2 linked regions of the Homo sapiens genome follow. The protein of the gene in region 2 interacts with the protein of the main gene of each other region in a biochemical or structural test. Each region holds a gene or a part of one and is shown on either strand. Other genes may lie near its edges.

What was found.
Region 1: the proteins of USP12 (region 2) and CDC73 form a complex in vitro, tested with the Homo sapiens proteins (one study listed by BioGRID).

Annotation. Positions count from the first base shown.
Region 1 is NC_000001.11:193,125,031-193,132,068, reverse strand, and holds part of CDC73 (parafibromin), read right to left. Parts: intron 6,958-7,038; coding exon 6,852-6,957; intron 1,896-6,851; coding exon 1,826-1,895; intron 1-1,825.
Region 2 is NC_000013.11:27,065,630-27,070,823, reverse strand, and holds the end of USP12 (ubiquitin carboxyl-terminal hydrolase 12), read left to right. Parts: intron 1-1,439; coding exon 1,440-1,541; 3' UTR 1,542-4,668; downstream 4,669-5,194. UniProt on the Homo sapiens protein: Deubiquitinating enzyme that plays various roles in the regulation of the immune response and inflammation.

The DNA of each region.
Region 1 (7,038 bases), on a different chromosome or scaffold from region 2:
ATTACTCATTTATTCAGTTAAGAACCTACCATGCACCACTATTGTAAATGCTGGGTATTTAACAAGACAAACAACTGTCTGTCCCCTTAGGATTTACCTTCTAATGGGAAAGACAGACACTATGTACATAAACAGATATATAATTTCAGGTCAATGTATGAGATCTGGTGAAAAATAAATCAGGATGGCACTATATAAAAACCACAGAAGGAGGAAAGGAATACTATATTTTCGATAAGAGTGGTCAGAGAAGTCTTCTCTGATGGAACAACATTTGGAAAAACACTTGAGCACAGATCTAAATGAAATAGTAAGCAAGTGAGCCATGTGATAATGTAGAGAAAGACAACTCAAGATAGAAAGAGAAAGTGCAAAGGTGCTAAGATTAGCATAGCTAAAAGACCAAAAAGACTGACTGTTATGAGCAAAGGAAGAATGGTAGAAGATGGAGTCACAGAGATTTAGGCAGAGGCAAGATGACTGCCAGGGTAACAAGTATGAGTTTTATTCTAAGAGTGATGGGAAGCCACAGGTGAGTGACACAATCAAGTTTATATACTTTTTCAAAAGCAGGACACTCTATTGCTAAGACTACACTATAGGAAATAAAGAGTGGGGACCTGTGAGGAAGCTATACAATAATCTAAAAAGCAAGGATGAAATAGGGCAGGTAGAATGGTAAGAAGTTGTCATACTTTTAAAAAGAGAAAAAAACAACTTGTTGATAGAATGGATGTGAGATGTGACAAAGATGTCACCAAAGTTCTGGCCTAAGCAACTGCAGGAAGAGCGTCTCACTACCCCTTACTAAAGTGGGAACACTGAGAAAACAACAGACTTGTTTTTGTTCTGTGTGAGGGCAGAAGGGAAAGAGGGAATCAGGCATTCCATTTTCAGTGTTAAATTTCAGATGCCTATTCAACATTCAAGGAAACATGTTGACAGTAAATTTATAAATCTGGTGCCCTGAAAGAAATCAATGCTGAAAAAAACACTTGAAATTTCATCAGCATATATATGATATCTGAGCCATAAAACTGAAAGAGATCACCTAGAGAATACAGGTTAAAAGAAAAGATAAAAAAAAAGATCAAGTCTTGGAAACTTCAAGAATTAGAGGTCAGGTACAGAAGTAACCAAAATAAACTGAGAGGTGAACAACGAGTAGAAAGAGAACCAAGAGGCTGGTGTTCCAAATGCCAAATGAAGAAAGGCTTTCAAAAATGAGTGGTCAACAGTATCAAATGCTGTTGAGAGGTCAAGTATGGTACAAGAGACCAAAGGATGTAGCAATCCTTAAATCAGTTTTGACCTTACAAGGAGTGATTTTAGTGGGATGGTAAGGATGAAGGCCAGACTAGAGTGGCTTCAAGAAAGAAACAAAGGTAAAAAAGAAGCAATGATACCACACGAACTCTTGCAGAATATTTTACAGTATCAGGGAGGAGATAAATGAAGCAGTAGACAGTAGGAATGTGGGATCAAAAACATTTTTTAAACATGAAATCTTACTGTAGGTATTCTAAAAGGGAATGATCCAGAAGAAAGTAGAAAACTGATGATGTCAGAGAAACAACAATTTACGAAGACAAAGTCTTTGAGACTGTGAAAGGAGATGGAATCCACACACAAGGAAGGGGTGACTGGCCATAAGGGCAAAGACAGTGCATCCACTGTATAAGAAAAAGGTGAGCACATGGACAAAAATGAAGGTAGGTTAATTTTTTGGTGGAAATACAAATTCTCTTCCCTCTAATCATTATTTCATAGGGGAAAAAAGAAACAATGTCTGTTTAAGACTGGGAACAATTTAAAAAGTACTCACACGCTTCACCATTGAGATATCCAAGTAGATCTTTTCGATCAGGTCTTCTAACCACAGGAATATTTTCAGTCTAAAACCAAAATTTTAAATGAGATATGAAATGAATAACAATGATACACAACTTAATAAATATTAACATGTAATGTCTGAATTTTATTCCAACATATCTTGAAAAAACGTATTTTAAATCACATTTGTAAAAAATGACTAGGCTAAAAGAACCTAATAAAAATCCTGAAAATTTATTAAACATGTTAGTTACTTTTAATAATTTTCTTACAACTTGATATTAACATGTAATGTCTGAATTTTATTCCAATATATCTTGATACAATATATTTTAAATCACATTTGAACAAAATGACTAGGCTAAAAGAACCTAATAAAAATCCTGAAAATGTATTAAACATGTTACTTTTAATAATTTTCTTGGCTGGGCGCGGTGGCTCACACCTAGAATCCCAGCACTTTGGGAGGCTGAGGTGGGTGGATCACCTGAGGTCAGGAGTTAAAGACCAGCCTGGCCAACATGGCAACACCCCGTCTCTACTAAAAAGACAAAAATTAGCTGGGTGTGGTGAAGCATGCTTGTAATCCCAGCTGCTCAGGAAGCTGAGGCAGGAGAATCACTGGAACCCAGGAGGCGGAGACAGGCGTTTCAGTGAGCCGAGACTGCACCACTGCACTCCGGCCTGGGCAACATAGAGAGATTCCGTCTCTAAATAAATAAATAAATAAATAAATAAATAAATAAATTTCTTTTTGAAATTCCAGGAAGATATACAGAAAATAATCATTAGAAATAAAGCAATGACCAGGCACAGTGGCCCACACCTGTAATCCCAGCACTGCGGGAGGCCAAGGCGGGCGCATCCCTTGAGGTCATGAGTTCAAGACCAGCCTGGCCAACATGGTCAAACTCCATCTCTACTAAAAACACAAAAATTAGGCAGGGCGCAGTGGCTCACACCTGTAATCCCAGCACTTTGGGAGGTCGAGACGGGTGGATCATGAGGTCGGGAGTTCAAGACCAGCCTGAGCAAGATGGTAAAACCCCATCTCTACTAAAACTACAAAAATTAGCTAGGCGCGGTGACAGGCACCTGCAGTCCCTGCTACTCGGGAGGCTGAGGCAAGAGAATCGCTTGAACCTGGGCGGCAGAGGTTGCAGTAAGCCGAGATCACGCCACTGTACTCCAGCCTGGGTGACAGAGTGAGACACTGTCTCAAAAAAAAAAAAAAAAAAAAAATTAGCCGGGCGTGATGGCAGAAGCCTATAATCCCAGCTACTCAGGAGACTGAGGCGAGACCCAGTCTGAAACACAAACAAACAGTGCAAGAAAAATTGGTAGCTAACAGATTTCAGTTTAAATCCTTTGTCACTTTATATGTGTAACAATGAAGTAACAACAAGAACCTTTAGTATCTTTGGCCAATGACCTTATATTGAATACTTATTATAATTTACTGCACCAAACATTCTGCACTGACTCCTCAATGATTTAGATAAACTGTATTTAATCACTTAAAAATTAACCTTTTATTTTAAAAAGGTCAAGCTAAATTTTAGTTTCTCCTTATGAGTTTAAAAATTTGAGTGCAGAGTTTTTTTGTGCTTGTATTCTTTTAAACCAGCCTAGGCCAGGCATGGTGGTTCATGCCTGTAATCCTAACACTCTGGGAGGCCAAAGTGGGTGGATTGCTGGAGCCCAGGAGTTCGAGACCAGCCTGAGCAACATGGAAAAACTCCAACTCTACAAAAATATAAAAGTTAGCCAGGCATGGTGGCAAGCGCCTGCAGTCCCAGCTATACTCCCAGCTACTCAGGAGGCTGAAGGAGGAAGACAACTTGAGCCCGGGAGGGTAAGGCTGTGGCAAGCCAAGATCCTGCCACTGCACTCCAGCCTGGGTGACAGAGCAAGACTCTGTCTCAAAAAAAAATAAAAAATAAAAATAAACCAGTCTATATGGAATATCATAAACAGTTAAAAGATTTGAGTTAATTTTAAGTTACTGTTTCTAAGTCTAATAACTTACATCATCATTTGGTCACTACTGAGTTATGTACACATCACAATCCACTGAAAAAGATTACATCTACTCACACTAAAATAGGAACTAAGGATCAGGAATCTGTTTTCAGAGTGGTCTGCTCAGCCGGACGCAGTGGCTCACGCCTGTAATCCCAACACTTTGGGAGGTCGAGGCGGGCGGATCGCGAGGTCAGGAAATCAAGACCAACCTGGCTAACGTGGTGAACCCCCGTCTCTACTAAAAATACAAAAATTAGCCAGGCATGGTGGCGTGTGCCTGTAATTCTAGCTACTTGGGAGGCTGAGGCAGGAGAATCCCTTGAACCCAGGAGGCGGAGGTTGCAGTGAGCCGAGATCACGCCACTGCACTCAAAAAAAAAAAAAAAAAAAATGAGTGGTCTGCGCACAGGAAAGAGCAAATAACACAAAGTAATTAGGAGACAACAATCTCGAATTCATAGAATTTTGGAATTTTAGAATCCTACTCTTTCAATCTGGCAAATACTTATGAAAAATGAGTTAAATCTTATGCAACCAAGGGTCCCAAGGTCCACAGTAACAATTACAGCTATCAGTTATATGCACAACCATTTCCCAAAAACAGAATCTATAAATCTAAGCCAACTATCTGAATCTTTGTTACACTAAAATGAATATATCCAACAAAACACTGTAAGAACTACCTAATTTAGTTTTTAAAGATCTGAGTTAAAATAACCTTAAAGACGGAGCTGGTGCTATTTTTTTCCCCTTATTTTCCCAAGTAGTCCCACTCTAATTTTATTTTTTTAAATATGTAACATAAATATATATTTCTTACTCAGGAAAGCAGAAGCCTTATGGTTTAATACAAAGCCCACTAAGTGACGGGATACTTTCTCAATTGCTATAATCACACACACACACACACACACACACACATTTTTTTTTTTTCCCTGAGACAGAGTCTTTGCTCTATCACCCAGGATAGATGCATTGGTGTGATCATGGCTTACTGCAGCCTCAACCTCCTGGGCCCAAGTGATCCTCCCACCTCAGCCCCTTGAGTAGCCAGCTGGGAGTATAGGTGCACACTACCACGCCTGACTAATTTTTTTTATTTTTTGTTTTAACAAAGTTTCCCTATGTTGCCCAGGTTGGTCTTGAACTCCTGAGCTCAAGTGATCCTCCCACTTGAGCTCAGCCTCCCAAAGTGCTGGGACTACAGGCATGCACCACCACACCTGGCTTTTAGTTGCTTTAGACAACAAGTTATTGTTTGAAAGATACATAAGCCAGAAACCTTAACTATTTCTAGTTGGGAGGGAGGTTAGAGTTATAGAAGTTAAGTTTCACACAGCTTAATGTGATCCAGCAACGGTGTTAGGTAACTCAAAAAGCAGCTCCAGTGATGACAGACACAGTGATATTTTAAAAAATTGTTTTAAGAACTATAAGAAAAGTTTAAGAAGATTGTTTTAAGAACTATAAGAAATGGGAAAAAGTAGTTATTTATAAATACATTTCATACTTAATTTTAAGTGTATACTTGTAAGCAAAAGCAACAAATATTAAAAGCAGACATTTAATTATTTCAATTATATCTTCAAAAAATTTTATGTTCAACTCTACCAAAAATAATCTGAGGGAAAAGCTCATTTAAAAAAATTAAATATCTTTTAGGCCATTTTATGTGGGCATTATAGTACTTTTCCATGTCATACAGCTATCCTATCCAAATAACTCTGAATCTTATTTACTTATCAATTATAATATACTGCTATAATTTAGGTCTTAATGATACTTCCCTACAGATGAAGAATCTCATCATCATAGTTTATGAAATTAGTTCTTTTCAAGTTGTTTCCAAATATTTCCTCTGAGTAATAAATTTTCAAACACTGAGAAAGCAAGCAAAACTAAAAACAAATGAACTTCTCCAGAGTACTAAAACAGCTGCACAAAACTGATTAAGAAACAATTTTTTTAAATGTCTGCTAATCTTAATCCTTACAACCAAAAAAAGTTTTCTTGAGATTAAACTAGAGTTCTGAAGTAACAGGGTCCTTCCACAGGCTTACAAGTTTTTCTAAACATCTCTATAAATACTTTTAGCGTTTCGGGTTTTCTTTTTCTTGAGATGGCATCTCACTATGTTGCCCAGGCTGGTCTTGATCTCCTAGGCTCAAGCAACCCTACCGCCTTAGAGTCCCAAGTAGCTGGGATTACCAGCGTGCACTAAGAAGCCTGGCTCTATAAATCCCTTTAAAACTTCCTTTGTTATAAACATTACCCACACTTTACATGAAAAAATATCACAGATTAAAAAGTCTGTGTAAGTCACACAGTCACCTAATTTTGACTCTCCTGGAGACACTCATACAAACCTTTCATTCTTTTGATTTGAAACCCATGAGGGAAGCTATCCATTCCAAATGATACCTACTACCACGAAGCCAAAAAAAAAAAAAATGTGTTAATACAAAAATTAGCCCGGCATGGTGGGCCATGCCTATAGTCCCAGTTTCTCAGGAGACTGAGGTGGGAGGCTGGCTTGAGCCCGAGAAGTAGAGGGTACAGTAAGCCGAGATCACACCACTGCACTCCAGCTTAGGCAACAGAGCCAGATCCTATCTCAAAAAAAAAAAAAAAGTTTTAAAATGAATTATTGGCCAGGCACAGTGATTCATGCCAGTAATCCCAGCACTTCGGGAGGCCGAGGCAGGAGGATCCACTGAGGGTAGGAGTTCAAGACCAGCCTAGGCAACACAGCAAGACCCCCTCATCTTTAACAACAACAAAAAAAATTAGCCAGATACGGTGGCACAGGCCTGCAGTCCTGGCTACTTGAAGGCAGAGGTGGGAAGATCACTTGAGCCTAGGAGTTCGAGGCTGCAATGAGCTATGATCACACCACTGCACCCTAGCCCGGGCAACAAGGCCAGACCCTGTCTCTTAAATAAATAAAAATAAAACTGATAAATAGATAGATAAGTAAAATGAATTCTACTTACAGCTGCACGTCGGACATAAACAGGATGAGAAAGGTGCACGTTATTAAGTAGAAATAAAATGGAATCCAATGTGTAGTACTCTCTGGGTTGGCCTTCCTTTCCAGTCCTGAAATAATTAAGGCAAGATTTTTTTTACTGACAATTCTAATTCAACTCTTCAGGCTGGATTCATTTATATAAACAACTT
Region 2 (5,194 bases):
CCCAGCACTTGGGGAGGCTGAGGCGGGCGGATCACCTGAGGTCGGGAGTTTGAGACCAGCCTGACCAATATGGAGAAACCCTGTCTCTCCTAAAAATACAAAATTAGCCGGGCATGGTGGCGCATGCCTGTAATCCCAGCTACTCGGGAGGCTGAGGCAGGAGAAGCGCTTGAACCCGGGAGGCGGAGGTTGTGGTGAGCCGAGATCGTGCCATTGCACTCCAGCCTGGGCAATAAGAGTGAACTCCGTCTCAAAAAAAAAAAAAAGAATAAAACAAGGGAAAGCTTTCAACAACAGACCTGGCTTTAAAAAAAAAAAATTAAGCCATGTAACATACATACAGTAAAGTATACAAATCTGAATTTGATGAATTTTTATACATGTGTCCCCCCATGTCACACACACATGGCCATACTCACACACTCACATTTGTAACTACCATCCAGGTCAAGATACAATTCATTTTCAACACCGCAGCAGGCCCCCTTGTTCCTCCTTCTGGTCAGAACTTACAGCTTTCCTCACCTCTACCCTCCTGGAGCCTGCTATTTGGACTTCTATCATTATGATTAATTTTGCCTAGGCTTGAATATAAATGGACTCACATAGCATGATTTCTTTTGTGTCAGACTTTATTCACTCATTGATATATTTGTGAGATGCATTCTTGTTGCCTGCGGTAATAGTAGTTCTTTTTCACTGCTTTGTCATTTTCTACTGTATGAATATACCAAGTTAGAAATTTGACTTTTTGTCAGTTAATGACTATTGTGAATTAAAATGCATTGGTCATCTTTTATAAGCCTTTTGCTGGACGTATACACTCATTTTTCTTGGATATATGTTAGGTTGGACCACTAGAAGTTGCCTTTTTGTTGTTTTGGGAGACAGTCTTGTTACCTAGGCTGGAGTGCAAGGGTGCGATCTCGGCTCACCACCACCTCCACCTCCTGGGTTCAAGCGATTCTCCTGCCTCAGCCTCCCGAGTAGCTGGGATTACAGGCATGCGCCAACACGCCTAGCTAATTTTGTATTTTTAATAGAGATGGGGTTTCTCCACGTTGGTCAGGCTGGTCTCGAACTTCTGACCCCAGGTGATCTGCCCGCCTTGGCCTCCCACAGTACTGGGATTACAGGCGTGAGTCAGTGTGCCCAGCCTAGAAGTTACCATTTTGTTGGTCCAAAATAGTTATTAGTGGTTTCATATAATTCATCCTGTACCTAGAAGTAGAATTGCTGGATCAAAGGGTAGTTGTATGTTCAGCTTTAGAAGATAGGTATTTATAAACATTTTTTTGGTGTGCCCTGCCAGCTGTGTGTGAGAGTTCCATTTTCCCCACATTTTCACCAAATACTTGGTATTGTCAGTCTTTTAAATTTAAGCCATTCTGGCTGTACAGAGCTCATTTATGTACTAATGTTTACATTTTACCTCACAGAAAATAGATGCACAAGCTATTGAAGAATTCTACGGGTTGACATCAGATATCTCAAAGAACTCTGAGTCTGGTTACATCCTTTTCTATCAGTCTCGGGACTGAGAGGGAACCGTGATGAAGAGACACTTTCTGCCTCATTTCTTCTCTGGTTATTTTGGAAAGGATCAAGCACTGATTTTTCAAGAAAAGAGAAATGCAGGAAGCTCAGGGGGCAGTAGCACACTTTGCACACGATAAAGCAAAGACGATGGATTGACAAGCCCTTCCGATCATGGTAGTTGATTTATTTGCTCAGGTATCATGCTGTCTGTACAGTTCCATACAACAAGGAGGTGAAATCAGAGATACCAGCTCCTCTTTTAAAACAGCCTTCCAGTCATTGGCACGCATTTTCTCTTTATTAATTGCACCAATAATGCTTTGAATTCCTTGGGGGTGCAGTAGAAAGAATCGGAATCTGTGCCGTATTGATAAGGAGATGATGTTGAACACACTGCATAAATTTGCCTGGTTCAGTATGTATAGAAGCATATTCAGTGGTCTTTTCAAGAGTAAACCAGAAATACTTTTGGGCCCAACACTTGCAGTTGCCTTCCTGATGTAAAAACTAACATGCTAGATAATCCAGTGTCGGGAAGACAAAGATGTTTTGCTTCTCTGAAGAAGCTTATAATAATATACAGTATATGTATATGTAGGGAGCAATTGGTCAAAAGTGGCTTTTTGTTTCCCCAAGGGGAAAGACTGGCTTTGTAATTATAATTTTTTCCTTATTTATTTTACTTAAAACTGGTAGAGTCTAAGTATTATATGAAGTGCCCATGATTCTGTCAGTAAATTTGAACATATTTTTATTAGTTAATGTCAGTTTAAGTTGTCCTTTTGTTTGTTTCTATTTTTAAGGTGAATTTTAATTTCTATCTGAAATCAGTTAAGATACCTTGAGAAAAACTGCAGTGAGAGGAGATAAATATCCTTTTTCAGGAGGAACTGATATCTCTGGCTAAATATTTGTCCTTTTATTATGGTTTCTAAATCAGTTATTTTCTTCAGCTTTAATTTCATAAAATTAAAAAACTATTTTAAAAATTCCTGTAGTTGTTGGAATAATTAAAAATTCTGGTGCAGTGGTGGTATACCAATCTTTAGAATTCTTAAGTATTCTAATGTTTCAAGTTGAGATCATGCTTGGGAAAATCATGTCATAGCATTTATGTTATTTTCAGATGCCATTTTTTACCCTGGAAAGAAGTCATAATGTTCATCATAACCCTAGCAGCCTGGATAGTGAGCTAAACAAACCCTTCAAAGATTAAATTTTAATCAAGTAGACCGGGAATACAAAAGACAAGTCCTTCCTTCCCTTCCCCCCACCTTTACAAATCTTACTGGAAGGGTGTTCAGAAATTAAAATCTGTGTTTGCTAAGACTTCATTCTGTTGGGGGTTTTAAGAAGTAATATATGTAACATAAAATATATGTAAACGATTGCAGTTTTTTTGGACGTTTTTCCATGCATCAGTAAGTTGTCTGACAGTAGCCAAATGTAACTTGCAGAAAATTATTGAAAATTATATTCAGAATAATAGCAATCAGGCCTTGGATGTTCTTTATTAAACTCTTTTCAGGCAGTAAATTTAAAAAAAATTGTCATTTTCTAAAGTCCTTTTGCTAAAACTGTTGACTATGGAAAACAACAAAAAGGAATTTTTTAGTCTGCTGCTATTATTAACATTTATTATCTGTATCTTTTGGCTCAGGAAATGACTTCACCTATTTTTTCCATAAGCAGACCTTTAACAGAGTCACTTAATTGGGCTGCTTAAACAGATGTTCTGGGAGAAAATTATAATATTTAGTATTTGTACAAAATATCAAAAAGTATTTTGACAAGTTTCTTTTTAAGATAGTTCCTAAAGCCTTACCCTGGCTAGAGGTGTTTTGTACAAATTATATATAAGCCAGCCTGATCTACCAACATGCCACAGAGAATCACAATCAACAGTGTGGGGAAAGTCAGGGCAGTGGAAGTGGATGCACTCTTTTTATTTTGAAGGCTTAAACCAAATTGTCTTGGAATTAAAGCTGTATTTCTGCAGCTTTCGGTACAGAGAAAAAGAGGAAAGTGAAGCTGTGTCAGTTTTAACATTAGCTATATCAACATGTTTAAGAAAGATAGATGAAGTCATTTGCATAAAGGTACAGCATTGAAATACTATGTTGTGTTTGTTTTTACATTTTTGCATTAAAAAAAAACATGCCGTAAAAGCCAAGTTAAATTTCATATTAAAGCAAGTTCTAGTGTATGTGTTGAGTTCCTGGTAATCACATACTTGTTCACATCTACACCGTACTTCATAGTATGATTTGTCAGGGGAGGGATTGTGGGGTGACAGTTTTACATTTACTTTTTCTTCTTAATGCAGCTGGATCTAAGTAAAATGTTTTGAAGTTTATCAGAAACTAAATGTACTTTTAAAACGTATAGGGTCAGGGTTGGGGGAAAAATACAGGTATAGTAAGTAAGAAAAGTGACCCATGAAGAAAGCATCGTGAGGTTGTATGTTGGTTGACTGTGATTAAAATGCGGGGCTGGTGTAAGTTGTAAGTGGTGGCTGATTGCCGTGTAACTATGTACATGATTGTTGGGATGGCTGTCCCATATTTTGTATATTGGAATAAAAATTTCTATAAATTATTGTAACTAAAAGTAAATATTCTAAATTAAGTCCCACTTCTTAAGTCACATGGCTTCTGTCTTGGAAATTTTACCTTTAAAAGATTATTTAAGACAGGAACCAGGAGGCTTGGGAACAGGGAAAGAGGGAAATGTTGTATTATGTGGGTCTTGGGGCCTCTAACCATCAGTATAGGGTTTTTTCTTTCCTTGATGGCAGTAGAAAGACCTCATTTTCATAACATAACTACTCTTGATACTTTCTTTAAAAACACTTTTTATTAAAGATTCTATCATGAGGTATTTGGCTGGGAGCTGGGAGGCTAAAGCGCTCATGTCCTGGCTCTTCAGTGAATTTAACTGTGTGACCTTGGGCAAGTCACTTAACCTCTCTGTGCTTCAGTCTCCCTGTCTTGTAAAATGGGAGTAATACCTACCTCACAGGGTTGTTGTGGGGATTAATTAGAGATAATGTCTGTAAAGCATTTAAGGTTCTTGAAGAAGGCACTATATAAATACAAAATAATATCTATTAAAGTTGGTTTATTTGTGCCTGTGGGTTTCAAGTGTGTTTTTTCCTTTTTGCCTAAAATGTATTTACAGATTAGAAGTAGACACTTTGGAAACTGTGTTACTGCTTTTGCCCAAGCTCCTACTTCTGTATCCAAAGAGATTTTCCCTAGAACAGAATTGCATGTGTGTAAAACAACATTCTACATGTGCCTGCATTTATTTAGCACATAGTAGCTTGTGTCACCTTTCTGTGATAGCATGTCTGAAAAGTTCAAAGTTTAAATTTGAACATTGAGAGTCATAGAATCTTAGAGGGTAAAATAGGTAAAATACCTTAAAGATCACTGTTTCTCCTGCTCCTCCTCCTTTCCTGTGTAGTAATTGCTCCTGTAAAATCTGTTTTCACAAGTGGTCAGTCAACCTGCACTTGAGTGCTGGAAGCCTGTTCCATTATTGAGTAACTTGAGTTGTTATTTATGTTGCCATTATTTTCAGCCCATCCTTCATTCTCCCAGTGTGCTTCTGATCTCAAGGCTGATCTTTGTATTAGATGGCTTTCAGAGAC